2 separate regions of the Homo sapiens genome follow, and region 2 is linked to region 1. A link means that fine-mapping ties the variant in region 1 to the expression of a gene that starts in the linked region. Tissue or cell type: whole blood. Region 1 holds a variant in brackets; the other region holds the start of a gene. All regions are shown on one strand. Distances are between the middles of the regions.

Region 1 (15,260 bases):
TCAGCCTGCTGAGTATCTGGGACTACAGTTGCACACAACCTCACCCTGCTCTTTTGTTTTTCTCATTCCTTCTTTCTTTCTTCCTTTTTTTTTTTTTTTTTGTGACAGGGTCTTTCTCTGTCACCTAGGCTGGAGTGCAGTGGCGTGATCTCGGCTCACGCAACCTCTGCCTCCCAGATTCAAGCGATTCTCCTGCCTCCACCTCCCGAGTAGCTGGGACCACAGGTGTACATCACCATGCCCGGATAATTTTTTTGTGTGTATTTTTAGTAGAGACAGGATTTCACCTTGTTGGCAAGGCTGGTCTCAAATTCCTGAACTCAGGTGATTTGCCCACCTTGGTTTCCCAAAGTACTGGGATTACAGGCATGAACCACCACACCCAGTTTTGCCCTGCTAATTTAAAAAATGTTTTTGTAGAGATGGGGCCTCACTATGTTGCTCAGGCTGGTCTTGAACACATAGGCCTCAAGCAATCCTTCCACCTCAGCCTCCCAAAGTGTTGGGATTACAGGCATGAGCACACAGTGCCTAGCCTATTATTATTATTTTTATTGAGCAGACTCCTGAACCAGAATAGGTTCAGAGAGACTTTTTAATTTTTTTAACTGTATGATATCTCTCAGTTATGGCAGTGTAACTTGTGTCACTGAATTTCCAAAGTATACCTTTTTTTTTTAACTGTGCTTCAAATAAATAGAAAAATAGTTATAGGCTGGGTGCAGTGGCTCATACCTGTAATCCCAACACTTTGGGAGACTGAGGCAGGAGGGTCACTTGGGGCCAGGAGTTCAAGACCAACCTGGGCAACATAGCAATAACCCATCTCCAAAAAAAAAAACCAAACAAACAAACAAACAAAAAAACAAACACTAGCCAGGTGGGATGGTGTGTGCCTATAGTCCCAGCTACTGGAGAGGCTGAGACAGGAGGATCACTTGAGCCCAGGGGGTTGAGGCTGCAATGAGCCATGATCACACCACTGCACTCCAGCCTGGGTAACAGAATGAGACCCTGTCTTGTGGCTGGGTGCAGTGGCTCACGCTTGTAATCTCAGCACTTTGGGAGGCCGAGGCAGGTGGATTACAAGGTCAAGAGATCGAGACCATCCTGGCCAACATGGTGAAACCTTCTCTCTACTAAAAAAATACAAAAAATTAGCTGAGTGTGGTGGTGCGTGCCTTGTAGTCCTAGCTACTCGGGAAGCTGATGCAGCAGAATCGCCTGGACCCAGGAGGCAGAGATTACATTGAGCTGAGATTGCACCACTGCATTCCAGCCTGGCGACAGAGCGAGACTCTGTCTCAAAAATAAATAAGTAAATAAAATACAAATAAAAAAATAAAAAAAGAGACCTTGTCTCAAAAAAAGAAAAAGAGAAAGAAAAAGAAAAACTTAAAAAAGAAACACAATTATATAGATGAAAAAAAAGAACCACTTCCTGTGGGCTGATGAAGAGGTGAGGGACCTCATAGACAGCAGCTGTGTTACCAAAGGGAAGACCAAGGGGAGGCCACTGATCTTCACTTAAGAAAGTATAAATTGTCAGTGTCCAGACGCTGCATTGGCCATCCTTCTCTTGCCACCTGGGGAGAAGTGTCTACCAACTGTAGCCAGCCTGTGGTCCTCTATTTATGCCACAGGACTTGCCAGCTCTCCAATCTATCCACTCCACGTGGACAACTGCCTCCGCCATAGTTCAGGACAACTGCCACCTCTCTAGAGCAGAGGGTGATGGGGCTTGTCCTCAGAGGGTGGTGCTGATGGGAGGGTAAACTCCTGTGCCTGGGCATGCTGCAGATTTCCTAAGTTAGAACAGTGGTAGAACATCACCTTTATGTCAGTAAAATCCCATGACTCCTTTACAGTATCATGGCTTAACCACCTTAGTTTTTATCCCAAGGGTAGAAGAACTGAGCTATAGCTATAGAGACACCAAGATATGGTCCAAGGAGTAAGAATTTTCTTATGAGGGCATGGTGGCTCACACCTATAATCCTAGCATTTTGCGGCCGGGCACGGTGGCTCATGCCTGTAATCCCAGCACTTTGGGAGGCCGAGGCGGGTGGATCACGAGGTCAGAAGATCGAGACCATCCTGGCTAACACGGTGAAACCCCATCTCTACTAAAAAAATACAAAAAATTAGCCGGGCTTGGTGGCGGGTGCCAGTATTCCCAGCTACTTGGGAGGCTGAGGCAGGAGAATGGTGTGAACCCGGGAGGTGGAGCTTGCAGTGAGCCGAGATTTCACCACTGCACTCCAGCCTGGGTGACAGAGCGAGACTCCGTCTCAAAGCAAACAAACAACAAAAAAAAAAACCTAGCATTTTGGTAGGCCAAGGAGGGAGGATGGTTTGAGCCTAGGATTTTGAGACCAACCTGGGCAACATAGCAAGACCTCATCTCTACAAAAAAAAATTTTAAAAATTAGACGGGCATGGTGGTATGCACCTGCAGTCCCAGCTACTCAGGAGGCTGAGGCAGGAGGATTGCTTGAGCCCAAGAGTTCAAGGCTGCAATGAGCTATGATTGGGCCACTGTACTCCAGTCTCTACAACAGACTGAGACCTTGTTTTGTTTTGTTTTTTTTTAAGTGCCACTTAACTCAGGCTACTGGTTATGAAAATGCCCCTGAAAGAAATTAAATAGGTAAGTAAAGGAAATTTCCTGGGGGAAGATATTTATTTATTTATTTAGAGACAGGTTCTTTCTCTGTCACCCAGGCTGGAGTGCAGTGGCACAATCTCAGCTCATTGCAACCTCTGCCTCCCAGGTTCAAGCGATTCTCCTGCCTCAGCCTCCTGAATAGCTGGGATGACAGGCGTGCACCACCATGCCTGGTTAATTTTTGTATTTTTAGTAGAGCTGGGCTTTTACCATGTTGGCCAGGCTAGAAAATAAATATTTAAAAACAGCTTCTGGGCCTTACCTCTGCTTCATCTTGAAGCTTATTTGTAAATCAGCATGCTTTTTTCTTTTCTCCTTTTAAATTAACTAATTAATTAATTAATTGTTTTGAAACAGAGTTTTGCTCTTGTCTCCCAGGCTGGAGTGCAATGGTGCAATCTTGGCTGACTGCAATCTCCACCTCCTGAGTTTTAAGTGATTCTCCCGCCTCAGCCTCCCGAGTAGCTGCGATTACAGGCACCCACCACCACGCCCAGCTAATTTTTATATTTTCAGTAGAGATGGGGTTTTCTCCATTTTGGCCAGGCTGGTCTCGAACTCCTGACCTCAGGTGATCCACCTGCCTCGGCCTCCCAAAGTGCTGGATCACAGGCATGAGCCACTGTGCCTGGCCATCTTTTCTCCCTTTCTAAATGCAAAATGTGAAGTAAAAACTGGAGAAAACATTACGCTGATTCAGAAATAACTTTTTGGAGCAACAAGCTTGGTCTCTTTAGGGACATTCCTGACATTGAACATTCTCCCATCTGGCTCCCATAAGAATATATATATATATATATTTTTAAGAGACAGAGTCTTGCTCTGTCACCCAGCCTGAGTGCAGTGGCACAATCATAGCTCACTGCAGCCTCGAACTCCTGGGCTCAGGCGATCCTACCACCTTAGTCTCCCAAGTAGCTGGGACTACAGGTAAATGCCACCCTGCCCGGCTAATAGGTAGGATTTTTAAATAGCCCTTGAGATGTGGGAAGGCAACTACCATTTATTTATTTATTTATTTAGAGACACAGTTTTCACTCTGTCGCCCAGGCTGCAGTGCAGTGGCGTGATATCGGCTCACTGCAACCTCCACCTCCCAGGTTCAAGCGATTCTCCTGCCTCAGCCTCCTGAGTAGCTGGGATTACAAGCGTGCGCCACCATGCCCAGCTAATTTTTGTATTTTTAGTAGAGACCGGGTTTCACCACGTTGTCCAGACTGGTCTTGAGCTCCTGACCTTGGGTGATCCCAAGGTCCCGCCTTGGCCTCCCAAAGTGCTGGGATTACAGGCCTGAGGCACTGCGCCCCCGCAACTACCATTTATTAAGCACCTGCTATAGGTCAGGCATTCCACAAACCTCTTTGTGTTCATTAACTCATGTATTGCAGTAGGAAGCTCTGTTATCATTGGGATTATGGCTTGTCTGGAATATTTTCTTAGAGTTTGCAAAAATATTTTCTAAAGCAAAACAGTCTATTCAGATAAAGCATTCCCACAGAGAAAATTATGCAGATATTAAAGAATCCTGTAGGGCTGAGAGTGTATGCAGGTCATTAAGCCTTAAAAACTTTCTGGACCTCTTAGGCTGGCCATTAAAACTCCTGGTGAGAGCTGGTTATTTAATTAGGCTACAAACAAAATTTCAGCAATTGCTTCTAAATGGTTTTTCCAGCCCTGGAGGGAACCCAGGCAGGATTGGTGTGTGGTAAGGCTAATTTTTGCCTCCTGGCAGTTTTTAAATATTGCTTTCTTTTGTTTTGTTACATGTAGACCATAAATTATATAGCAAAACACCACCATATATTAGGCAAGGGACCAATTTTGTTTTCTCTCTAAAATACATGTCAAACATTGGCCTTCAAAATGACTAGGTTTGCTCATTTTCTTTTTTTTTTCTTTTTTTTGAGACAGGGTCTTGCTCTGTCATTCAGCCTGGAGTGCAGTGGTACGATATAGGCTCACTGCAGTCTCAACCTCCTGGGCTCAAGCAATCCTCCCACTTCAGCCTCCCAAGTAGCTGGGACTACAGGCACATGCCACCACACCTGGCTAATTTTTTTTTTTTCCCCCGAGAGAGTCTGGCTCTGTTGCCCAGGCTGGAATGCACTGCAACTTCCGCCTCTCAGGTTCAAATGATTCTCCTGCCTCAGCCTCCTGAGTACCTGGGACTATAGGTGCGTGCCACCATGTCTGGCTAATTTTTGTATTTTTAGTAGAGATGGGGTTTCACCATGTCGGCCAGGCTGGTCTCAAACTCCTGACCTCAGGTGATCCACCTGCCTCGGCCTCCCAAAATGTTGGGATTACAGGAATGAGCCACCATGGCCGATCCTAGCTAATTTTTTAGGAAACTTTTTTGTAGAGATGGGGTTTCGCCATGTTGCCCAGGCTGGTCTCAAACTCCTGAGATCAAGTGATACCATTTGCCTTGGCCTCTAAAAGTGATGGGATTACAGGCGTGAGCCACTGCGTCAGGCTGCTTTGCTCATTTAATAAATATGTTTTAAGGTACCTACTATATGCAATGGTGAATAAAATAGACATACTCCTTACCCTCAAGGAGCTTCAGAGCTGGCACAAGAAAGAGATAACTGCAAGTAAGTCAATGTATAACCCAAAGCTGTGTTATGAACTTGTCTCTGTGTTGCATATGTACAATCCCAATTGTGTATGTGAGAGAAAATATCTAGGGTATCATTTATAGTGGAAGTCCAAGGAAAATGACATTAGCTGGGTCTTAGGGGATGAGGAAGAAGGGGCTAGATGGAGATTTGGTGAGGGGGAAAAGATTATCAGCTATTATAGAAGCAAAGGTCCCTCAGCCAGGTGTGGTGGCTCACACCTGTAATCCCAGCACTTTGGGAGGCTGAGGTGGGTGGATCACGAGGTCAGGAGTTCAAGACCAGCCTGGCCAACATGGTGAAACACCATCTCTACTAAAAATACAAAAATTAGCTGGGCGTGGTGGTGCATTCCTGTACTCCCAGCTACTAGGGAGGCTGAGCCAGGAGAATTGCTTGAATCAGGACCCTGGAGGCAGAGGTTGCAGTGAGCTGAGATCATGCCACTGCACCCCAGCCTGGGTTACAGAGTGAGACTCCATCTCAAAAAAAAGGGTCCCTGAAGTGTGAAAGAATGTGGCAACATCTGAGAGCAGAAAGAAGAGTGAGGTGGCTCACGCCTGTAATCCCAGCACTTTGGGAGGCCGAGGCGGGCAGATCACTTGAGGTTAGGAGTTCGAGACCAGCCCGGCCAGTGTGGTGAAACCCCGTCTCTACTAAAAATATAAAAATTAGCCAGGTGTGGTGGTGGGCACCTGTAATCCCAGCTACTTGGGAGGCTGAGGCAGGAGAATCACTTGAACCCAGGAGGTGGAGTTTGCTGTGAGCCGAGATTGCACCACTGCACTCCAGCCTGGGCAACAGAGTGAGACTCTGTAACAAAATAAAATAAAATAAAGTGAGGCAGGAGAGAGGGAGTAATAGGGTTCTACAAATAAATGGAACCAATAGTTACACACAGCGGACCCTTGAACAACACGGCTTTGAACTGAGCAGGTGTCCACTTCTATGTGGATTTGCTTCCACCTCTGCTACCCCTAATGAAGCAGCCTTAATGTCTGGGGTGACACCCAAGGTTCTTGGTCTCATGGCCATAGAGATCAAGGACTTGAACACATACAAAAGGTGAGGTTTAGAGTAGAAATTTAATAGGTGAAAGAAAGAGAATAGCTCCCTGCTACAGAGAGGGGTCCTGGAAAAATGGGTTGCTGAAGCTCAGTGAATCGCAAGGGTTTTTACAGATGAGCTAGTGGGAGGCGGTATTTGATCTACACAGGGCACGGAAAACTGGTTAGGACCAGGTGTGCCGTATGCATAGGGCTTGAATCTCTGGCAGCCCCCACTTCAATTGTTTATTATGCAGGTGTATCCTCTGCCTGAGCTACTCCATGTTGCTTATTTCTTTCACACTGCGCATGTGCTAACAAAAAAGGGAAGGTGGAGCCTCCATGGTGGACCTGCCTGGCCCCAGGTCGTCTTTTCTATCCATGCAGCTGCCCCCACGGTGGACCTGCCTGGCCCCGGGTCGTCCTTTCTATCCATGCAGCTGCCCCCACGGTGGACCTGCCTGGCCCCGGGTCGTCCTTTCTATCCATGCAGCTGCCCCCACGGTGGACCTGCCTGGCCCCGGGTCGTCCTTTCTATCCATGCAGCTGCCCCCACGGTGGACCTGCCTGGCCCCGGGTCGTCCTTTCTATTCATGCAGCTGCCGGCATTCCCCCGTGCAAGCTTCCAGTTTCC[C/T]TATCTATGTTTGCAGCCTGATCTTTCAGGCTGCTCCTTTTTAGAAAGTGATTTCTTGGGCTTTTTTTTTTTGTTAGAAGGGAAGTTCTACTGAGGACTCTCTTGCCGTCATTGTCTGCCTAAATAATTTCTTTCTATCTCCTGTATCACTAAGACAGCGAGACCATCCCCTCCTCTTCCACCTCCTCTCAGCCTCCTCAATGTGAAGACAAGGAGGTGAAGACTTTTGTTGTTTTGAGACGGAGTCTTGCTCTGTAGCCCAGGCTGGAGTACAGTGGCACAATTTTGGCTCACTGCAAGCTCCACCTCCTGGGTTCAAGCAATTCTCCTGTCTCAGCCTCCCACTTGAACCCAGGACGTGGAGATTGTAGTGAGCTGAGATCACACCACTGCACTCCAGCCTGGGCAATAGAGTGAGACTCAGTCTCAAAAACAAACAAACAAAACAAAACAAAGCATGCATTAATTGGCTTTAGGTTATCAGTAAGGCTTCTGGTCAATAGTAGTCTATTAGTAGTTAAGTTATGGGGGAGTCAAAAGTTATATGGGAGGCTGGGCATGGTGGCTCACCCCTGCAATCACAGATTTTGGGAGGCTGAGGTGGGAGGATTACTTGAGCCCAAGAGGTTGAGGCCATGGTGTGCTGTGATTGTGCCAATGCACTCTAGCCTTGTTGACAGAGTAAAATTCTCTCTTTCTCTCTCTCAAAAAATAAAAAAGTTTTGGCCAGGCACGGTGGCTCACGCCTGTAATCCCAACAGTTTGGGAGCCGAGGCGGGCAGATCACCTGAGGTCAGGAGTTCAAGACCAACCTGACCAACCCAGAGAAACCCCATCTCTACTAAAAATACAAAAATTAGCTGGGCATGGTGGTGTGTGCCTGTAATCTCAACTGCTTGGGAGGCTGAGGCAGGAGAATCGCTTGAACTCGGGTGACAGAGGTTGCAGTGAGCCGAGATCGCGCCATTGTACTCCAGCCTGGGCAACAGAGCAACACTCCATCTCAAAAAAACAAACAAACAAAAAACATGGGCATGGTGGCCAGCACTTGTGAGGCTGAGGCACAAAGATCACTTGAACGTGGGAGGCAGAGGTTGCAGTGTGCCGAGATCATGCCACTGCACTCCAGCCTGGGTGACAGAGGGAGACTCTAGCTTGAAATTATGTCTTCAGGGATTCTAGCCACAGTTAGACTTGGCTGAAAGAGGCAGGTGCAAGTGAGCAGCAGCCATCCCCCAAGGCCACTGTGGTTAGATGTGGCAATAGACACAGATACCTGTGGGCTCCAGTTTGTCCTTGCTGTCCTCTGCATCTAGCTCTTCTCCTGACTTCTGACCCTGATGACCAACACAGCCCCAGGCCCACCACCAGGTGCTTGGTGGTAGTAGCTACATACAGGCACAGGTTACCATAGAGCGTTCCCTTGGCCATCCTCTTTCAGTGACTAAATGTGCCTGGCTACTCAGATGGACTGGCCAGTACCTCCTCTGAGCCTCCAACTTTCCTCCTAGTCTGTCCCTTCCCCAGCTTCTCCTATGATTCTGTAAGGTCTAATTCCTAGAGTAACTCTCTTATCCCATAGCTCATAGTATTTCTGCATTGAGCCCTGACTGCTGCAATGAACCAGGCTACGCAGACCATGGTGAAGGCCAAGAGAAGCTACTGAAGATCTCTGAGTTAGGTAGTTGGCTTATATCTGTGGGTGCGGCTCCCTTAACTATAGCCAGGTTCAAGATTCTGAACAGAATAGTGTGCTGTGTGGAAAAAATTGCTGTTGGACTGTTTTCCAAATCCCCACAGCTGGTTCCTGCTGTGTTCCCATCTTGTGGGCAAGTAGTTATTAGGATCTTGTCTCAGTCCAGACAAGAGGAAGTGTTTGTGTTGTCATCTGAGAGCCCAAAACAGACTCCTCTTGATTAAGATGGACCCTGCCGGGTGCAGTGGCTCACGCCTGTAATCCCAGCACTTTAGGAGGCGAGGCGGGCAGATCCCGAGGTCAGGAGTTTGAGACCAGCCTGACCAACATGGGGAAAACCCGTCCCTACTAAAAATACAAAAATTAGCTGGGCATGGTGGGGCGTGCCTGTAATCCCAGCTACAGGAGGCTGAAGCAGGAGAATGGCATGTGGCGTGAATTCAGGAGGTGGAGGTTGCAGTGAGCTGAGATTGTGCCACTGCACTCCAGCCTGGGTGACAGAGCAAGACTCCATCTAAGAAAAAAAAAAAAAAAGATGGACTTTAAGGTTAAGGAAACAAAAATTACCTACAGGTCACGGGTTTAGGTATTGGCTGGCATGAATTCCTTCCTAAATTCCTAAATTCCTATGGCTGCAAGAATAACTACACTCTTGCTAAGCTCCCTCACAATAGGAGATGTCAAGGCAAATTATCATACCCCTCCTAACTTTGATTTATACCCAGACTGCTACAACTCTGATTGGACAGAGGACTGACCTTATAGACATTGTCTTCTGATGAGCAACTGCAGACCTTAAGCAGTTTCAGCCGGCTTATAGAGACTGCACACAAACTGTCTTTGTGTCCTATAGCTCACCTTTTGACACAGAGAGCCAAATTCCACCTCATTTTATTGCTAAAACCCCACCCCAATGTGAACATGGGATGTATGTTACACATATGTTTACCCATTGTGCATGTACTTAATTCCCCTCATAAATATGCGTAGTCTTTTCCCCAAACCTGCTGAATATGTATGATTCCATTGTGTAATACAGGCCCTGTAAGGCATAAAACCCAGCCTGCCCTTTCTCCCGTCAAAGAGAGAGCAGCTTCCACACATTCAGGAGACTGTCTCTTCCTGGTTTGTGAACTGATGTCACCAAATACAACTCTCCTGTTACTTAGTCATCTTGGTGGTCTTTGGATGACAGTATCTAACACTTAGAAGGGTTCATGAACAAGAGAACAAACTCCAGTCTTTTGTGGCTATTTATAGTCAACAGCTCAGCTTTGTGGCAGGCACAGGAACAGATTAAGTGAGTTGACTTTCAGACTGAGAGCAGCTCAAAATCTACCATCCATCAGGAAGTGTGTGCAGTAATCCAGGGATAAATACATGTAATTTGCCAAAAGAGGCAGTGGGTGCTATACTTGGAATCAATGTGAAGGTTTTAGAAATATACAGATGCTTGAATTCTGCTGCAACTCATTTAAATCTGGATTTCTGAGGGTGAGGCCTAGACATCTCTACTTTTTTTTTTTTTTTTGAGAAGGAGTCTTGCTTTGTTGACCAGGCTTGAGTGCAGTGGCGCAATCTTGGCTTCCTGTAACCTCTGCCTCCCGGGTTCAAGCGATTCTCCTGCTTCAGCCTCCCGAATAGCTAAGACTACAGGTGCCCGCCACCACGCCCGGCTAATTTTTTGTATTTTTAGTAGAGACAGGGTTTCACCATGTTAGCCAGGATGGTCTCTATCTGCTGACCTCGTGATCCGCTCGCCTTGGCCTCCCAAAGTGCTGGGATTACATGTGTGAGCCACCATGCCCAGCATCACTACTTTTTTTAGTCCAATTTATCAATTTTTTTTTCTTATCTTTTCTGGGACAGGGTCCTGCTCTGTTACCCAGGCTGTAGTGCAGTGGTGCAATCACGGCTCACTGTATCTCAACCTCCTTGGCTAAAGTGATCCTTCTCACTCAGCCTTCCTAGTAGCTGGGACTACAGGTGCATGCCACCGTGCTTGGCTAATTTTTGTATTTTTTGTAGAGATTTGTTTTGCCATGTTGCCCAGGCTGGTCTCAAACTCCTTGGGCTCAAGCAAGACTCCCAAAGTGCTGGAATTACAGGCACGAGCCACTTGCACCCAGCCCTATTTTTTTCTTTTGTCATTTGTGTTTTGGTGTCATATCTAAGACGGCTTTGCTTCACCCAAAGTTACAAAGATTTACTCCTATATTGTCTTCTATGCATCACATTTTAGCTGTTACATTACTGTTTAGTTCTTGAGACAAATGTTCATTAATAAAATCCAAATATATTACTATAAAAACTGTACCTAAGGCTGGGTGCGGTGGCTCACGCCTGTAATCCCAGCACTTTGGGAAGCCGAGGCGGTGGATCACGAGGTCAGGAGATCAAGACCATCATGACTAACATGGGGAAACCCCATCTCTACTAAAAATACCAAAAATTAGCCAGGCATGGTGGCACGTGCCTGTAGTCCCAGCTACTTGGGAGGCTGAGGCAGGAGAATCACTTGAACCCGGGAGGCAGAGATAGCAGTGAGCTGAGATTTGCCACGGCACTCCAGCCTGGGCGACAGAGCGAGACTCCATCTAAAAAAAAAAAAATTAGCCAGGCATGGTGGCGCATGCCTGTAATCCCAGCTACTCAGGAGGCTAAGGCAGGAGAATTGCTTGAACCCAGGAAGCAGAGGTTGTGGTGAACTGAGATTGTGTCATTGCACTCCAGCCTGGGCAACAAGAGCAAAACTCCATCTCAAAACAAACAAACAAACAAAAAACAAAAACAAAAAAAACTGTACCTAAGAAGGGTCATGTCCCTTCTCTCCAAAGGATGCATCTTGTTGGAGGGTCAAAACACACCAGCATTTATCATCACTGCTAGCTGAGGGCCCCAGAGGCAGTCTAGGGCAGTGGTTAAGGGAGCAGATGCCACAGTCAGTTTTCCTAGATCAGCAGTTGGCAGACTTTCTGTACAGGAATGTCTTAGTCTGTTTGTGTTGCTATAAAGGAATACCTGAGACTGGTAATTTGTAAAGAAAAGAGCGTATTTGGCTCATGATTGTGCTGGCTGGAAGACTAGCCATTTGGTGAGAGCCTCAGGCTTCTTCTACTCATGGTGGAAGGGAAAGGGGAGCTCCTGTGTGCAGAGATTACATGGAGAGAGAGAAAGCAAGAGAGAGATGGAGGGTGCAGGCTCTTTTTATTTTTTATTTTTACTTTTATTCTTTTTTTTTGAGACAGGGTCTCAGTCTGTCACCCAGGATGGAGTGCAGTGGTGTGATCACAGTTCACTGCATCCTTGAACTCCTAGGTAGCTGGGACTATTGGTGTGCCACCATGTCCAGTTAATTAAAAAAAAAAATTGTATACAAAAAAAAGGAGCAAGATGGAATCAACTATATCAGATTTTTCTCCCTGTCATAATTTTTGCAAAGGTGATCTCACTGCTGCAGTCCTTCCATTGTCTCCTGCCTGGACACTCAAACCCACAGCACAGTCCCTGCTTTTATTCTCACCCATCCTCTCTCTAGAACTCCAGTTCTGCCCACACAGTGGCTGACTCGCCATCTCTACCTGGACATCCACAGGCCCTGGGACTCAGTGGGTCCCAGACCTAATGGTCATCTCCTTCTTCCCTCCTGCAGCTCCTTGCCTGGTTTCCTGACCCAGGATCCTCCCAGTGACCATCTAGAACCTGGGAATCAGCCTGCCTCCTCCTTCTCATGCTCCCGGACCTATGATCAATCAGTAAGTCCTGTCGGTTCCACCTCCATGTTCTGGCAAATCCATGCCTTCCTCTGCTCCTTTTCTGGGTCACGCCTTCCTTGCAGCAATAGCCCTGGATCTGGTCCAGTTGCCTTCAGTCCGGCCTCCTCCAAAGCTGCCAGGGGACATTTCGTGTTCCCAAACAACTTATTTCTGACCAGGAGCCTCCCTTGCCTAAGAGCATCTCGGTTACCTTCACGTAGAGTAAACTTATGAGAAGAGGCTTTCGTTTTTTTTGAGACAGAGTCTCAGTCTGTCACCCAGTCTGGAGTGTGGTGGCATGATCTCGCCTCACTGCTACCTCCCTTTCCCAGGTTCAAGAGATTCTCATGCCTCAGTCTCCTGAGTAGCTGTGATTACAGGTGCCCGTCACCAAGCCTGAGCAATTTTTGTTTTTTTAGTAGAGACAGGGTTTCACCATGTTGGTCAGGCTGGTCTCCAACTCCTGACCTCAAGTGATCTGCCTGCCTCGGCCTCCCAAAGTGCTGGGATTACAGGCGTCAGCCACTGCACCCGGCTAAGAAGGAGCTTTTTGGAAGCCCCCAGATCTGGTCTCTGCCCACTTTTCCACCTCTAACTACAGATCCAGCCTGCCCAAGCAGGGTGACACCTAGCTCCCAGAACTCGAGGGCACACCCCGCTCACCCAGCTGTACTCTGCCAGGCATTCCTTTCCTCTTTCCCTCACCTACTTGGCAGACGAGCTTCTCTTCAAGTCCCAGCAAGTCTGTGTCTTTGTGGTGAAGCCACTTAATCCCCCACGTACTGATGGCTCTGGGCTCGTTTTTACAAGAATGAAATTTGCTTGTCATTTCCCTGACCCCTCGTGTAAATTCTTTGAAGGCATATATATATATATATATATATATATATATATATATATATATATAAAATTATTTTTTTTTAGGTAACTTTTGTCTTCTTAGAATGCTTGGCACTTGGCAAATATCAACATGTAAATATTCGTTGAGCAAATAAATGTTTGCTAAGGAAATGAGCTGTATCAGGGCTGGATTACCCAATAGAGTTTAGGGCCAGTAGCAAAACAGGGGAGACCCCCAAATTATTTAGAAATAATTTGATATTTAATAGTTGGATAAAAGCATTGAAGCATCATAATGAGAAAATGAGAATTTTGGAGGATGTCTTTACATTCCTTTCACTGCTTTGTTTGTTTGAGGCAGGGTCCCACTCTGTCACCCAGGATGGAGTACAGTGGTGTGATCGTGGTTCACTGCAGCCTCAACCTCCGAGGCTCAAGTGATCCTCCCGTCTCAGACTCCCAAGTAGCTGTGCACCACCATGCCAAACTGGTTTTTTATATTTTCTAGAGATGGGGTCTCACTATGTTGCTGGTCTCAAATCCCTGAGCTCCAGTGATCCTCTTGCTTCAGCCTCCCAAAGTGCTGGGATTACAGGAGTGAGACCCTGGGCGCAGCCAATTTTATATATATATGTATATATATACATATATATACACGTATTTATATATGTATATATACACATATATATACATATATACATATATACATGTATATATACATATATACACGTATATGTACATATATACGTATATATACACATATATACGTATATATATATGTTTGTTTGTTTTGTTTTGTTTTGTTTTGTTTTGTTTTGTTTTGTAGAGACGGCATTCACTATGTTGTCCAGGGTGGTAACTCCTGGACTCAAGTATTCTGCCGGCCTCGGGCTTCCAAAGTGCTGAGATTACAGGCATGAGCCACTGCACCTGGCCTCTTCTTGATTTATTTACCTTTATTTATTTGTATTTATTTATTTATTTTTAGATGGAGTTTTGCTCTTGTTGCCCAGGCTGAAGTGCCATGGTGTGATCTCGGCTCACTGCAACCTCTGCCTCCTGGGTTCAAGCGATTCTCCTGCCTCAGCCTCCCAAATAGCTGGGATTACAGGCATGCGCCACAAGGCCCAGCTAATTTTGTATTTTTAGTAGAGATGGGGATTCCCTATGTTGGTCAGGTTGGTCTGGAACTCCTGACCTCAGGTAATCCGCCCGCCTCTGCCTCCCAAATTGCTGGGATTACAGGCGTGATCACCGTGCCCAGCCTTTACCTTTATTTTTCAAGCTGAATTATACTATTGTTTTTTAAATAGCAGACTTTAAAAAGAGCAATTTTACAGAAACAGCAGGTTTACAGACAATTGAGCAGAAAGTCCAGGAAGTTCCCAGATATTACTTTCACCCCCCTTCCTTTAGTTTCCCCATTATTGACATCTTGCATTGGTGTGGCACACCTGTTAAAATTGATGAACCAAATTGATACATTATTATTAATTATAGGTAATCGTTTACATTAGGGTTCACTCTTGGTGTTGTACATTCTATGTTTTTCTTTTCTTCTTTTTTTTTTTTTTTTGAGATGGAGCGTCACTCTTGTTGCCCAGCCTGGAGTGCAATGGCGTGATCTCGCCTCACCGTAACCTCCACCTCCTGGGTTCAAGCTATTCTCCAGCCTCAGCCTCCCAAGTAGCTGGGATTACAGGCATGTGCCACCACGCCTGGCTAATCTTGTATTTTTAGTAGAGACGGGGTTTCACCATGTTGGCCAGGCTGGTCTCGAACTCCTGACCTCGGGTGATCCACCTGCCTCGTCCTCTGAAAGTGCTGGGATTACAGGCGTGAGCCACCATGCCCAGCTGATCCCTATTTTTCTAGGGGTGAACATCTGTGGGTAGGGTTTGGCTGACACATCTGCAGTGCCACTAAGAATGGCAAGTTTCTTTATTAGCTTCTCAGTATCAGCTCTGGCCTGAGATTCATGGTCTGGTCATTCAGACCAA
Region 2 (15,260 bases), 28 kb before region 1:
AGAACTGGAAATCACTGAATTCTATTTGACTCTAGTTCCATTTAATATTAGACTGGTGTGAAAGTAATTGCGGTTTTTGCCAAAACCGCAATTACTTTTGCACCCACCTAATAGGTATAAAATATGTAACTTCACTTAATTTTATCCTTTATGTATTTCCCCGTATTATGTACCTATGGACATCAAACTTAGTACAGACTGATAAAAGGCTGAATAGACAACTCTGGTTTCAAAAATCCAGCTTCTCACAACATCAGACATACTAGTATACAGCTTTTCTAATTTCACAACACATTTCCATTTCTTGGTCTTTCACAACAGAGAAGATGTGTGTACTTTTGAATACTTTAATCTGTCTACAATCTACCAAAATTGGAAGGTCTTTTTATTATACAGTTTCATCCTTTTAGAAGTATAGAAAGATCCTAAGTTTGGGCACAGTAAGACACTCAATATAGATCTACTACTAAACAAGTAAGACCAATTACACAATTAATGTCCTAAAACCCCGAGTGGAGAAGTAAAATCTACTTGTTTTCTGTTGACTTGAATGCCTTCTCTTCTTTGTTGAATTAATCAATCTATTTGACTCCAATGTCAAATTAATCAGTCACTTTAGAATATTAAAATGTACAATTATGAATTACACATTTAATTTTAAAACACATCATTCTGATCTCTGTCTTGATTGATACTAGAAGATTATCTTCCAAACTAAGGTGGAAAAAATGACAGACTTTAGCTATTGGCAATGATAGGTCATTTTTTTAGGGAAGAGGAGTAAAGAGGGCAACCTCCATAGGTCAGATATCCCTTTGTTCTAAGAAGCCACCACCCCTGTTTCTTCATATGAAAAAAACCAGAGGCATCCAGTGGTTCCCAAAACCTTCTCAACTTTACGCTTGAGGAACCCATAGATTTCAAATAATACAACTGACCTAAGACCACTCATTTGTTTAACCATTCTTTGAGAAGGAGTCTTGCTCTGTTGCCCAGGCTGGAGTGCAGTGGTGTGATGTCGCTCAGGACAACCTCCGCCTCTCAGGTTCAAGTGATTCTCCTGCCTCAGCCTCCCGAGTAACTGGGATTACAGGCATGCACCACCATATCCCGCTAATTTATTTATTTATTTATTTATTTTAGTAGAGACGGGGTTTCACCATGTCAGTTGGCCAGGCTGGTCTCGAATTCCTGACCTCGGGTGATCCACCCACCTCAGCCTCCCAAAGTGCTGGGATTACAGGTGTGAGCCACTGCCCCCGGCCTGCTTAACCATTCTTAAATGTCGGGTGCGGTGGCTCACACCTGTAATCTCAACACTTTGGGAGACTGAAGGTGGGCAGACTGTTTGAGTTCAGGGGTTCAAGACCAGCCTGGGCAACGTGGTGAAAACCCCATCTCTACAAAAAATACAAAAATGAGCCGGGCTGTTGGCAAGCGCCTGTAGCCCCAGCTACTTGTGGATGCTGAGGCAGGAGGCTTGAGCCTGGGAGGTCGAGACTGCAGTAAGCCAAGTATCTGTGCCACTGCACTCCAGCCTGGGTGACACAGCAAGACCCTGTTCTCAAAAAAATTTACAGAAGAGTTGACTGGGAGCACAGTGAATGAAAAGGAAGACTATAAGCCAGTGCCATATAAATGCTTACTGTTGGAGGTATGCTTCTATGGAACACGGGTTTGCTCTCTTGCCATAAGACATTCACGTATACAGCCACCTGCAACACTTCCTGTCAGTATGTGTGAAGTATCATGTGTGGTCAAAATGGACTCAACAGTCATTTTCCACACCAACTGGCAAACTAACACTAAAAGAAATCAACAAGTGTTGCTTTTTCAAAAGCCTAAATCGGCTGAGTGCGGTGACTTACACCTGTAATCCCAGCACTTCGGGAGGCCAAAGCAGGCGGATCACCTGAGTCAGGAGTCCAAGAACAGGCTGGCCAACATGGTGGAATCCCGTCTCTACTAAAAATACAAAAATTAGCTGGACGCCTGTAATCCCAGCTACTCAGGAGGCTGAGGCAGGAGAATTTTTCCTTGTAACCGGGAGGCAGAGGCTGCAGTGAGTCGAGATGACACCACTGCACTCCAGCCTGGGAGACAGAGCAAGACTCCATCTCAGGAAGGAAAAAAAAAAGGCCTACATCAAGGAAAACAGAACCAAAACACCAGGGACAAAATGGTACATAAGAGGCAAAAAAAAATTAATCAAAATTATTCAGATGAACCATAATAAATGTGCCTGCATCTGAAGATGTTCTAAACCTTCATTTAAGCAAGAAGCAAGATCAAGATCCGTTCTGTCAGTTACCTGGAGTCTGTCGTCTTTCTGAATAGGGGACAGAATCACCTCAAATTTAACTAATAAAAATTTATGACTTGGCAAACACCCCAGGTATTTTTATTGACTAACAAATCAGCTATGACAATCTTAGCAACAAATCAAGTTATGCTATGGGGTATGTCCACACTTCCCTGTTCCCTCTACAACAGGAGAAAATCAAATCTTTCCAACATCCTAACAAACTGTTACTCCCTATAACCAAATGTATATCACAGTATCGTCTACCAAGGCGTTACATCCTGAAACTTTCTTACAAAAAGCACAGCTTCAAAGAAACCTTGTAAGCTTTCTTGTAAGCTCCTCCCTTCCCCCATCGCCCCTCCCCAGAGCCAAGAAATAAAGCACTTGAAAGAAACAACATGGATAATATTTATTAATAGCTCATGTACATATTCCATAACTACATAAGCCATTTGGCTTCATACCTGTCAGCAATGAAGTCAGCTGGCCCTAGCACGTGGCTGCGACTCTTCTCTATTTATTTAGAACTACCAACTACAATTTACACTTTTCCAAAAGCTGTAGGACTATTTGGGAAGGGCACTTTATTCTTCTAAAAGGTTACTAAATTCTCTTATATACTTATACTGATCACAATACTGAAAAATAATAGAAAATCCATTGTCATTTATTTACCACCTAATTTGTTAGATGCCAGAAAATCAAATTTCACACATTTCAATAAAAAGGCAAAACTAAGCATGTCAATCATAGAAAAAAATACTTAATCAACTAATTTTATTTAAAGCACTCACAAACTCTTAAGTGGTACAAGACAAGTCAACGCTGTTTATCGAACAATATTTTTTTTTTTACGACTAAACATCTCAATTCTAGACTCAGGCACTAATTATTAAAGTCATCTAGTTATATACACCAATTCTCAACAGACACAGTATTTGGAAAGGCATATTAAATAGACTAAGATGTGTACCACCTATTAGCCAAAGATAATTTTATTGATTTTTCTAACGAGTCTTCAAATGTTACATTCTAACATCTTAGCAAATTATTTCCAAATACTGCTGGAATTACATGTAACTATCAGGAAACAAAAGGGCTTCCCAACAACTTGCGCGTTCTACATTATTTGGCCAGTTTCTGGACAATTATAACAATTGTGCTCCAAAGTAGGAGAGTTCCATGAATCAATTACCCCTAAAATATATTTCTGTATATTTAAGGAGTTCTAAGCATTGGGTTAAATTCCAAACAGACTCTGAATACAAGCATTTATTAAGAGAGATTAGAATAAATCAGTCCTAAATTAGGCACAGCTGCCCTCCCATTGATCAAAAAGACAGGAAACTACATTTATTTAAAAAGTTAATGTTCCTAATATATTCAAATCTCACTAAGCCCCAAAACGGTCTGAGATCAAATCCTCCATAAATGAGGAAATTCTCTAGACTTCTAAGTGGGTGCCCAAAGAGTTCACTCAAGTGTCCAGGTATGAATTACGATTCACCAGAGTAACCGGCCTTGCACTTAGGGAAAACTTCCATCGCCCAAGACCAGCGTGGGTCGATCCCATCAACAGTCACACAATCTCATCTCATGCTCCACTAATGAATGTTCTGCCTAGAGTCAGAGCAATGCCTTAGCTGGAGTTTTGTTTTGTTTTTTTCAATATTAACACGTGGGGGTCACAGAAAGGAACAGAGGTTAGAAGAGCTCTCACGTGGCGGCTGAAAGAGTGGGGAACCGAGAAAGTGAATGAGTAACAGGGAGGGTCCTGGACTCTCAGCATCTCCCAACTCGGGGTCAGGGGGAGGCTGTAACTGGAATGCCCCCCACCCCCACCCCCGCCTCTTTCTCACCTCCTGGTCCCGACCCCAGGCCAGTGCCACCGCCGGGAGCCCCGGGTCTCGGCTCCAGCCCCGGGCTGAACAAGCAGGGAGGGGAGGCACTTAGGCCTCGCCTCCCCGCGGCCTTCCTCCCCCAGCCGGGGCGGAGGAGACCCAGGAAGCCGCGCCCGGCTCCGAGGGGTGGAGGGCCTAGGCCGCGCCTCCCAGCCCCGCGGCCCTAGGCCTCGGCCCGCCCGAGGCGGAGCCCGGGAGGTCGGGGCGGGGTCCCGGGCCGGTCACCCACCTGGGTTGCCAGTCATTCCAGCTCCGCGGATACTTGGTGCCGCCGCCGCCGCCGCCGCTGCTCAGCCGAGACCCCGGGGCTCTGCGGCTCATTACCTTCCCCGACACGACATGGCCAAGCGCCGCCGCCCAAAGAAGCGCGAGTCGCCGCCCGAACCGGCCGCCGCCGACACCCCGCTCCGGCCCGGGGCTGAGGAGGAAGCCGAGAAGGAGGAGGAGGAGGAGGAGGAGGAGAAGGAGGAGGCGGCGGAGGGCGGGGGAAGAGGACGGCCGTTCCGGGTTCCGCCTGAGCCCGCAGCGCAGGACGAGGAGGCGGGAGCGGCGCGGTGAGAGAGAGGCGGATGAAGGGGAGGCGACGTCTTTTCCAGGGCCGTGCGCGGCCCACGTCGCCGGGGCCCCGGAGGACGAGGACGACGAGGAGCAGGCGGTGGCGGCAGCTCCTCACGCTCACACGGCCACTGCTTCCCCGCCTCCCGGCTCCGCCCGCCGCGCCGCCGCTGTCGCACGGCATGCTGGGAGCGAGGGGCGGGGTTGGCGCCCGCCGGGCCTGGGGAGAGAGGCGGGTCCTGTCGGCGGGGCGGAGCCGAGAGAGGCGGGGTCGATAGCAGGCCGCCCCGCCCCCCACGTCCCCAGGCCCTTGGGCGGCGAAGAGGTCTGGGCGTAGCGGTGACGAATCCTAAGACAGGGGATCTCCACTACTGCGGCCACACACTTTTCTCCCAAACGCTTCCCGGAAAGCACCGGAGGGCCGGGCAGTCAGGTGTAAACAGGCGTCCAATCAAGGACCTGCGGTGTGGGTGGGGGCTGGTGCCCTGCGGTGCGCGCGCACACAGGCGTGCCCTTGGATTCACGTGCGCCAGTTTTCCCACTTTCTACGGGGTGGGGTGGAAAGTGAAAATAGTAAGATCGAGAGGTGGATATCCACCTTCCCAACCTCCACCTGAAATGTGCCCATCGAGTCCTGGCACCTTTTACCATTTCTTCACAATGAAAAAAACTAAACGATGGAAGGGAAGGGAGTACCCACGATCACCAAACCCTGTCCTCTGCAATGTGAAATGTGCTTTGAAGTCCTTTCACCCTGAGGCTTGCCCGCCTTCTGCTGGTGAAAGAAGCTGGGGGCTAGGCGCGGTGGATCACGCCTGTAATCCCAGCACTTTCGGAGGCCGAGGTGGGCGGATCGTCTGAGGTGAGGAGTTCCCGACCAGCCTAGCCAACATGGAGAAACCCCGCCTCTACTAAAAATACAAAAATTAGCCGGGCATGGTGGAGGGCGCCTGTAATCCCAGCTACTTGGGAGGCTGAGGCAGGGGAATCGCTTGAACCCAGCAGGCCGAGGTTGCAGTGAGCCGAGATCAGACCATTGCAGTCCAGCCTGGACAACAAGAGTGAAACTCTGTCTCAAAAAAATAAAAGAGAGAGAGAAAGGAGGGAGGGAAGAAAAAGGAAGGAAGGAAGGGAGGAAGGAAGGAAAGGAAAGGAAAGGAAAGGAAAAAAGAAAAGAAAGAGAGAAGGCCGGGCGTGGTGGATCACGTCTGTAATCCCAGCACTTTGGGAGGCCGAGGCGGGCGGATCACGAGGTCAGGAGATCGAGACCATCCTGGCTAACACGGTGAAACCCCGTCTCTACTAAAAATACAAAAAATTAGCCGGGCGTGGTGGCGGGTGCCTGTAGTCCCAGCTACTCCTGAGGCTGAGGCAGGAGAATGGCGTGAACCCGGGAAGCGGAGCTCACAGTGAGCAGAGATGGCTCCACTGCACTCCAGCGTGGGCGACAGAGCAAGACTCTGTCTCAAAAAGAAAAAAAAAACAAAGCAGCAGCTGGGTAGAGGAGACGTACCCGACCGTCTACCCCATGACGTGTCCCATGCCCCAGGGAAAAAAGTTCCCTAAAGCATCTGATGCATAACGTGAATGCACACACGTTTTTTAAAAGTTGGGCCAGGATGCTCCTTAAACGAGTGTCTAAACCGTATCTGCATAAGGAGTCATAACCTATCATTTTATGTTGCAAAGAAAACGTCTTTATATATCGCTTGTGCAAATAAATATTGTTACCAAAAGTACTTGAAGATTACGAGGAGTTGACCCCTTCACACACATGCATATCCCCTCCACCTTGGGCTCCTTGCTTATGGCCACCAATCCCTCACTAAGGGAGGATCCTGCCAGTTCTAAATGATGGGGACTACAAAAATTACAAAAATTAGCTGGCGTGGTAGCGCGTGCCTGTGGTCCCAGGAACTCAGGAGGGTGAGGCAGGAGGATGACTTGAGTCCAGCGGGTGGAGGCTGCAGTGACCTATGATCCCGCCACTGCACTCCAGCCTGGGCTGCGGAGGGTAGGGAGGGAGGGAGGGAGGAGAAGAAAAAGAAAAGGAGGGGCACCATGGATGGCTGACTCCTGTAATCCCAGCACTTTGGGAGGCCGAGGTGGGTGGATCATTTGAGGTCAGGAGACCAGCCTGACAAACATGGTGAAACCCCATCTCTACAAAAAAATACAAAAATTAGCCAGGCATGGTGGCGCACGCCTGTAGTCCCAGCTATTCGGGGAAGCTGAGGCATGAGGATTGCTTGAACCCGGGAGCCAGAGGTTGCAGTGAGCCGAGATCATGCCACTGAACTCCAGCCTGGGTGACAGAGCAAGACTGTCTCCAAAAAAAAAAAAATCATTTAGGTGAAGTGATTCATGCCTGTAATTCCAGTGATGGGAGGCTGAGACTGGAAGATCCTTGAGCCTGGGAGTTATAGGCCAGCCTGAGCAACATAGTGAGACCCCCATCTCTACAAAAATTATTAAAATTTTTTTTCAGACACAGTTTCACTCTTGTGGCCCAGGCTGGAGTGCAATGGTGCGATCTCAGCTCACTGCAACCTCTGCCTTCCAGGTTCAAGCGAGTCTCCTGCCTTAGCCTCCCAAGTAGCTAAGATTACAGGCACATGCCACCATGCCCGGCTAATTTTGTGTAAAAATTTAAAATTTTTTTACATTAGACAAGTTAGAAATTGCTTGAGCAACTGGACACAATCTCTGGTACTACCTTTCTTTTTCTTTTTAATTTTTTTATTTTATTTTTATTATTTTTTGAGATGGAGTCTCATTCTGTTGCCCAGGCTAGAGTGCAGTGGCACAGTCTCGGCTCACTGCAAGCTCTGCCTCCCGGGTTCAAGCCATTCTCCCGCCTCAGCCTCCCGAGTAGCTGGGATTACAGGCGCCCGCCACCAAGCCCGGCTAATTTTGTTTTTTATATTTTTAGTGGAGACGGGGTTTCACCGTGTTAGGCAGGATGGTCTCAATCTCCTGACCTCGTGATCCGCCCGCCTCGGCCTCCCAAAGTGATGGGATTACAGGCGTGAGCCACCGCGCCTGGCCCTCTTTTTCTTTATTGGTCAAAATATTATCCATCTAGGCATATGGATATGGAGGCATGCCTGTGATCCCAATTACTTGGGAGGCTGAGGTGGGAGAATCGCTTGAGCCCACGAGTTTCAGGCTGTGGTGAGCCATAATGGTGCCGCTGCACTCCAGCCTGGGCAACAGGATGAGACCATTTCTTAAGGGGACGGAAAAAATCACTCTGGCTGTGGCAGATTTCCTTAGGATAGATTCCGAGAAGTGGAGTTATTGGGGAAAAGGCTGTTAATGATTTTAAGTCTTTGGATACAGACTGTTAAGTTGCTTTCCAGAAGTTTCTGCCAATGATAGTCTGATACTTTCTGTGTCCTCACACCACCCTTTGTCAACACTGAGTGTTTTTGAGGGTTAATTATTTCTATGAGAGAAGTTAAAAAAAAAAAGACAACAGAGAAATTGCTTCAGGTGGGGCATGGTGGCTCACGCCTGTAATCCCAGCACTTTGGGAGGCTGAGATGAGAGAATCACTTAAGCCTAGGAGGTGGAGGTTGCAGTGAGCCTAGATCGTGCCACTACACTCCAGCCTGGGCAACAGAGTGAGACTCCATTTCAATAAAATTAATCAAATGAATCAAACGTGAGCAACTCTCATAACTTCCAACATTTTTTTCTTCTTCCTGTTGGTGGTTCTGCCTCTCTGGTTCCATTAGGATTTCCCTACTCCATTTCAGTCATGGGAGCCGAGTTTCTGTTCCTGAAACACACCAAGCCTTTCTGGCCTCTGGATTTTTGTACTTGCTGTTCCCGCCATCTGGAATGCCTTCCCTGCATTTGTTCCCATCAGGGTTGGGACTAGCAACGTGACAGGTGATGGAGTTGCTGAGGGTGCAAAATTTAAGGAGGCACCTACTCCCAGGGTCATGCAAAAGCCAACTTTGCATTTGCACAATCCTGTGAGTAAGTCCCTCCTTAAATTTGAGGCTCTGCCGTAATCCCAGCTACTCAGGAGGCTGGGGCAGGAGAATTGCTTGAACCTGGGAGGCAGAGGTTGCAGTAGGCTGAGATCCTGCCATTGCACTCCAGCCTGGGCAACAGGGCGAGAATCCATCTAAAAAAAAAAATGAGGCTCTAGGCACCACATTTGCCCTACTCTGGCCCCTGCCCTGATTTTCCTGGCCTGTCTCATCTCCAGACAGGTTTCTTTGACGTCCCTTGCCCATAAAAGCTGGCCAGTGCCCTTTCCAGGTACTCTGTCACATACCCTATTTCTTTCCTTGGTAGTACCCAGCACCATCTGCAAGTATTGGGTTTCTTTGCATATTTAGCATCGGTCCAACCCTTAGGATATCAGCTTTGCAAGAGCAAAGGTCACATCTATCTCAGCCTACCTCCTCCATACTCAGCACACAGCACAGCACCTGACCATAGGAAGCACTCAAGAAATGGGAGGAATGAAATGGAAATTATCTAAAATAAGGATCAAGATTGATACAGAAGTATTCATCTCAGTTTTACTTATTAATAGCAAAACAAAAACAAAACACCTGGAAATTATACTAATGCTCAACAATAGGAAACTGATTAGGATGCAGTACATTCAGAGCTGAAATTTTCTGCAGCCATTACAAATTACATTTGTGAAGTTTTGTTTTTTTTTTTTTTTTTTTTGAGACAGAGTTTTGCTCTTGTTGCCCAGGCTGGAGGGCAATGTCTCGATCTCGGCTCACTGCAACCTCCACCTCCCGGGTTCAAGCGATTCTCCTGCCTCAGCTTCCCGAGTAGCTGGTATTACAGGCGTCTGCCACCATGCCCAGCTAATTTTTGTATTTTTAGTAGAGACAGGGTTTCACCATGCTGGGCAGGTTGGTCTCAAACTCCCGACCTCAGGTGATCCGCCCGCCTCCGCCTCCCAAAGTGCTGGGATTACAGGTGTAAGCCACTGTGCCCGGCCTAAAACAAAAATTTACAAAGCTAAAAGTAAGCATTCAATAAATAGGTGTTGAATGAATGAACAGAGAATGAATACTCTTAGAGTGTGGCAGTGACTCAGACAGACCAACTGAGTAAACTTTAGCCAAGACATCAAGTCTTAGCTCTAAAAATAGTGACCAACTCTACCTAATGTTTATTGAGCATTTATTTTTTATTTTATTTTATTTTATTTTATTTTGAGATGGAGTCTTGCTCTGTCGCCCAAGCTGGAGTGTAGTAGCAACATCTCGGCTCACTGCAACCTCCGCCTCCCAGGTTCAAGCAATTCTCCTGCCTCAGCCTCCCGAGCAGCTGGGACTACAGGCATGTGCCACCATGCCCAGCTAATTTTTGTGTTTTTAGTAAAGACAGGATTTCGCCATGTTGGCCAGGCTGGTCTCGAACTCCTGACCTCAGGTCATCTGCCCACCTCAGCCTCCCAAAGTGCTGGGATTACAGGCATGAGCCACGGCACTCGGCCTTTATTGAGCATTTACTAATGCAAAACCACTCAGTCAAATGATCAATATGAGTTGTTACTTCAAGGAATTCCCCCAAACCAAGCTAAGGTAGGTTTCAATGTGGCATTTTACACTTTGGGGCTGTGATACCAAGAGAAGCTAGCTCCCTGCACAAGGTCACCCAGCTGGTAGCAGGCAGGGCCAGGAAGGGAATGTCACAGGCAGAGACAGAAGGGACATTTGGCCCCAACTCCACATTCGTCAAAGGCGTCAGATTTAGACCTTTGACGTGATCGCCTAGTGAAGTTAGACCCAGAGTCCCAGAGACACTCGAACAGGAAGGAAGTCTGAAGTTAACAAACTATGTCCATTACCAGCTCACACACCTGTAGAGGCTGTGCATGGCATTCATACTTCCTAATAAATTATATTATTACCTGGTGAACATGTAATTACATCGCTTCATAGTTTGTTTCCCCTTGTGTTAAAAGTGTTCAAAACATAAAAAGGAAACAAAATATAGTACAAATTGTGAATGCTCTTTGTTATTTCTTAAATTTTTGATACACTCAGAACCTCAAAAACTGTGAGTAACGTGATCCTGTCTTAACTCCTAAAAGATCTTCCAGTAAGGATTCGAACACAAACCAACCCCAGGGTCTTTCATCACCAGGATTTTCCTAGAAATCTTCCAAACTTCCTAGAGAGACACTGTACTGACATTTATTCTCTAAGTAAACAAAAGAGAATTCTCTCTTTTGTTTTCTTTTGACCCTATGTCTGGCCCAGGATTAACCCCTATTAGGCACCAAGAATTGAGGAACTTTATTCTCAACCAGGAGACTCAACTTACATGGGTGATTTTTAAAATGCAATCTTAAAAGCAAATCCACATCATAAAGACATTAAAGCAGATTTTTCAAAAAGAAAAACAGCAGCCTTCTTGTTCCTGCTCCCAGCTAGGAAATCTTTGTCACAGGTCAGGCTCCCTCAGTAAGGGCTATTTTTATAGCGATTTTTCAAGCTGGTGCAGGAGGAATTTGGCTGAGAAACCTCATGACACATTTGAAATCTCCACTTGGGCAGTCTCAGCTTGAGGCAGGGGCCAAAATTCTATGAATCAGGGCACAAGAAGTGCTGCCCAGTGGCTCGTGCATTCTTTCAACAATAAAATAGGAAGCCGGTGATGCTCATCTTAAGCTATTTGTAACTTTTAAATTGGAGAAAACAAGAAAGTGAAATTCCCTTATGTTTGGTCCTGAGCTGCCCAAGGACTGGCATGGTGATTTTAATGGAGCTAACTCCTTTGCTTTCCCTGATTAATCCATTATTAGGAATATATGTAAATAAAATGCAAACTTATGTAAATAAAATCTCCCAACAGCAAGTTACTGCCCTCTATTGTTTATACAGTTATCATTTAACATGCTGGACGCAGTGGCTCATGCCTGTAATCCCAGCACTTTGGGAGGCTGAGGTGGGTGGCTCACCTGAGGTCAGGAGTTCAAGACCAGCCTGGCCAATATGGTGAAACCCAATCTCTACTAAAAATACAGTCTTGGCTCACTGCAACCTCTGCCTCCTGGGTTCAAGCGATTCTCCTGCCTCAGCCTCCCGAGTAGCTGGGACTACAGGCGTGATCCACTGCGCCCAGCAAGTTTAACTCTAAAGAGTTAAAGAGACTACCAAATAAGGGAAGGATAAATATTTCACTTCAGAACTTCTAGTTGAAATAGGATCATTTAGCTTCTTTGGGACACTGCTATCTATGTCTTAGCTGAAATGATTTCTTCATCCCATACCAGGGAAGCAAATGGAGGCTTATTCCATAAAGTGTTTTGTGCTGTATAATTTGAAGGTCACACTGCTTGGCATAGTGTTTTCACCATCCCCCAGGCATACCACGTCTCAGAGGACCCTCCCTGCTGGTCCCTGGAAGAGGCTTCTCAGATAAAGCAGGACTTAAGGTAGTTTTTAGATGAAGGGGAGCAGATGGCTGAGTATTACATCACCTCAGGTAAAGGAAACAGGGATATGAAAATAATAGGATTGTAGAAAAATAATAGTCTAATCTCCAAATTATCAACAAGTATTGGGGAAGTGTTTACTCCCAGCAAACATCAGGGATGGAAGGGGACTAATAAAAGCCTGGCCCTGTACTACTCAATTTAAAAGCAGATACCATCTTTTTTACCTTTGTGTCAAACTAATAACAGCCACTTACTAAGAATTTTATTTTTATTTCTTTTCTTTCCTTTCTTTCTTTTCTTTCTTTCTTTCTTTTCTCTTTTTCTCTTTCTTCTTTTTTTGATGGAGTCTAGTCCGTCACCCAGACTGGAGTGCAGTGGCACGATCTCGGCTCATTGCAACCTCCACTTCCCGGGTTCAAGCAATTCTCCTGCCTCAGCCTCCCGAGTAGCTGGGGTTACAGGTGCCTGCCGCCATACCCGGCTAATTTTGCATTTTTAGTAGAGATGGGGTTTCACTATGTTGGTCAGGTTGGTCTCGCACTCCTGACCTCAGGTGATCCACCCACCTCAGCCTCCCAAAGTGCTGGGATTACAGGCATGAGCCACTGTGCCCAGTCTCTCTCTTTTTCTTTCTTTCTTTTCTTTACTTTTTTATTTTATTTTTATTTTTTTTGAGACAGGGTCTTGCTCTATTACCCAGATTGAGTTGCAGTGCTGCAAACACAGCTCACTGCAGCTCAACCTCTTGGGCACAAGTGATTTTCTCACCTTAGCCTCCCAAGTAGCTGGGACTACAGGTGTATTCCACAACATACACTGGGCTAGTTGGATTTTTTTTTTTTTTGACGGAGTTTCACTCTTGTTACCCAGGAATGGAGTGAAATGGCGTGATCATGGCTCACTGCAACCTCTGCATCCAAGATTCAAGCAATTCTCCTGCCTCAGCCTTCCAAGTAGCTGGGATTACAGGCATGTGCCACCACACTGGCTACTTTGTATTTTAGTAGAGACAGGGTTTCTCCATGTTGGCCAGGCTAGTCTCGAACTCCTGACCTCAGGTGATCCAGTCACCTCGGTCTCCCAAAGTGCTGGGATTACAGGTGTGAGCCACCATGTCCAGCCTTTTTATTTTATTTATTAATTTTTTTTTTGAGACAGAGTCTCACTCTGTCGCCCAGGCTGGAGTGCAGTGGCACGATTTCAGCTCACTACAACCTCCACCTCCCGGGTTCAAGCGATTCTTCTGCCACAGCCTCCTGAGTAGCTGAGATTACAGGCACTTGCCACCATGCCCGGCTAATTTTTTGTATTTTTAGAAGAGAAAGGGTTTCACCATGTTGGCCAGGCTGGTCTCCATCTTCTGACCTCGTGATCTGCCCGCCTCGGCCTCCCAAAGTGCTGGGATTACAGGCGTGAGCCACCCTGCCCGCCCAGAGATGGGGTCTTTCTATGTTGCCCAGACTGATCTTGAGCTCCATGCCTTAAGCAATCCCCCCACCTCCCACAGAGGAGCTGGAGACCAGCCTGACCAACATGGTGAAACCCCGTCTCTACAAAAATGCAAAAATTAGCCAGGCATGATGGCAGGTGCCTGTAATCCCAGCTACTTGGAAGGCTGAGGTGGGAGAATCGCCTGAACCCGGAAGGTGGAGGTTATTATGAGCTGAGATCATGCCACTGCAGTCCAGCCTGGATGACAGAGCAAGACTCCATCTCACACACACAAAAAAAAAAAAAAAAAAAGAAGAAGAAGAAAAAGAAGAGAAATACACCAGCTGGGCCTGGTAACACATGCCTGTAATCCCAGGACTCTGGGAGGCCAAGGTGAGTGATCACTTGAGTCCAGAATTTCAAGACCAACCTGGGCAACATGGAGAAACCCTGTCTCTACAAAAAAAAAAAAAAAAAAAAAAAAAAATTTAGCCATGCATGGTGGTACACACCTGTAGTCCCAGCTACTCAGGATGCTGAGGTGAGAGAATTGCTTGAGCCTAGGAGGTGGAGGTTGCAGTGAGCCAAAATTGCACCACTACACTCCAGCATGAGTGATAGAGTAAGACCCTATCTTAAAAATAATAATAATAAAGAAAAGAAATAGACTTATAGCTATCTATATATATGTTATGTAATGTTATATAGATATAGGAAAAGGCTGGAAGGATATTGTGACAGTTAATTTTAATGTGTCAAATTGACTGGGGCACAGGGTGCCCAGATATTTGGTTGAACAGTATTCTGGGTGTGTCTGTGAGGATATTTTTTTTTTCATTACTTTTTGAGACGGGGTCTTGCTTTGTCAGCCAGGCTGGAGTGCAGTGGTGCAATCATGGCTCACTGCAGCCTTGACCTCTCAGGCTCCAGTGAGCTTCCTCCCTCAGCCTCAGGTGTAGCTAGGACCACAGGTGTGTGCCACCATGCCCAGCTAATTTTTTAATTTTTTGTAGAGACAAGGTCTCACTATGTTGCCCAGGCTGGTCTCAAACTCCTGGGCTCAAGCGAGTCTACTCCTTCAGATTCACAAAGTGTTGGGATTACAAGGCATGAGCCACCACACCCAGTCTGTGAGGGTATTTTTGGATGAGATTAACTTTTATTTATTTATTTGTTTGTTTTTTAAACAGAGTCTCCCTCTGTTGCCCAGGCTGGAGTGCAGTGGCATGATCTCGGCTCACTGCAACCTCCGCCTCCCGGGTTCAAATAATTCTCCTGCCTCAGCCTCCAGAGTAGCTGGGATTACAGGTGCACACCACCATGCCTGGCTAATTTTTGTATTTTCAATAGAGATGGGGTTTCACCATATTGGCCAGGCTGGTCTGAAACTCATCTCACGTGATCTGCCCACCTCAGCCTCCCAAATTGCTGGGATTACAGGCGTGAGCCACCGCACCTGGCCAATTTTTGTGTTTTTTATAGAGATGGGGTTTTGCTATATTGGCTAGGTTAGTCTCAAACTCCTGACCTCAAGTGATCCTCCTGCCTTGGCCTCCCAAAGCACCCATGTGTGCCACCACACCCGGCCCATAGTAATTCTTCAAACATCGACCAACTGGTGGTTCTTGGCTGCTGA

The links.
Region 2: SMG1 starts here. The variant in region 1 is fine-mapped to the expression of SMG1 in whole blood (TOPMed, PIP above 0.99).

What each region holds. Positions count from the first base shown.
Region 1 is chr16:18,949,476-18,964,735 of GRCh38, forward strand. No RefSeq gene overlaps it. Among named protein-coding and RNA genes, the nearest start is that of TMC7, 27 kb to the right of the region's middle. The variant C/T (reference allele first, on the strand shown) is at 6,970.
Region 2 is chr16:18,921,515-18,936,774 of GRCh38, forward strand. SMG1 (SMG1 nonsense mediated mRNA decay associated PI3K related kinase) reads right to left here and starts at 4,894. Exons shown (of 63, transcript NM_015092.5): 1 at 4,436-4,894. The coding sequence starts at 4,527. SMG1-DT (SMG1 divergent transcript) reads left to right here and starts at 4,673. Exons shown (of 2, transcript XR_001752094.2): 1 at 4,673-4,760. RefSeq lists enhancers at 1,868-1,927, 4,761-5,373, 5,374-5,987 and silencers at 4,116-4,705, 4,736-5,075.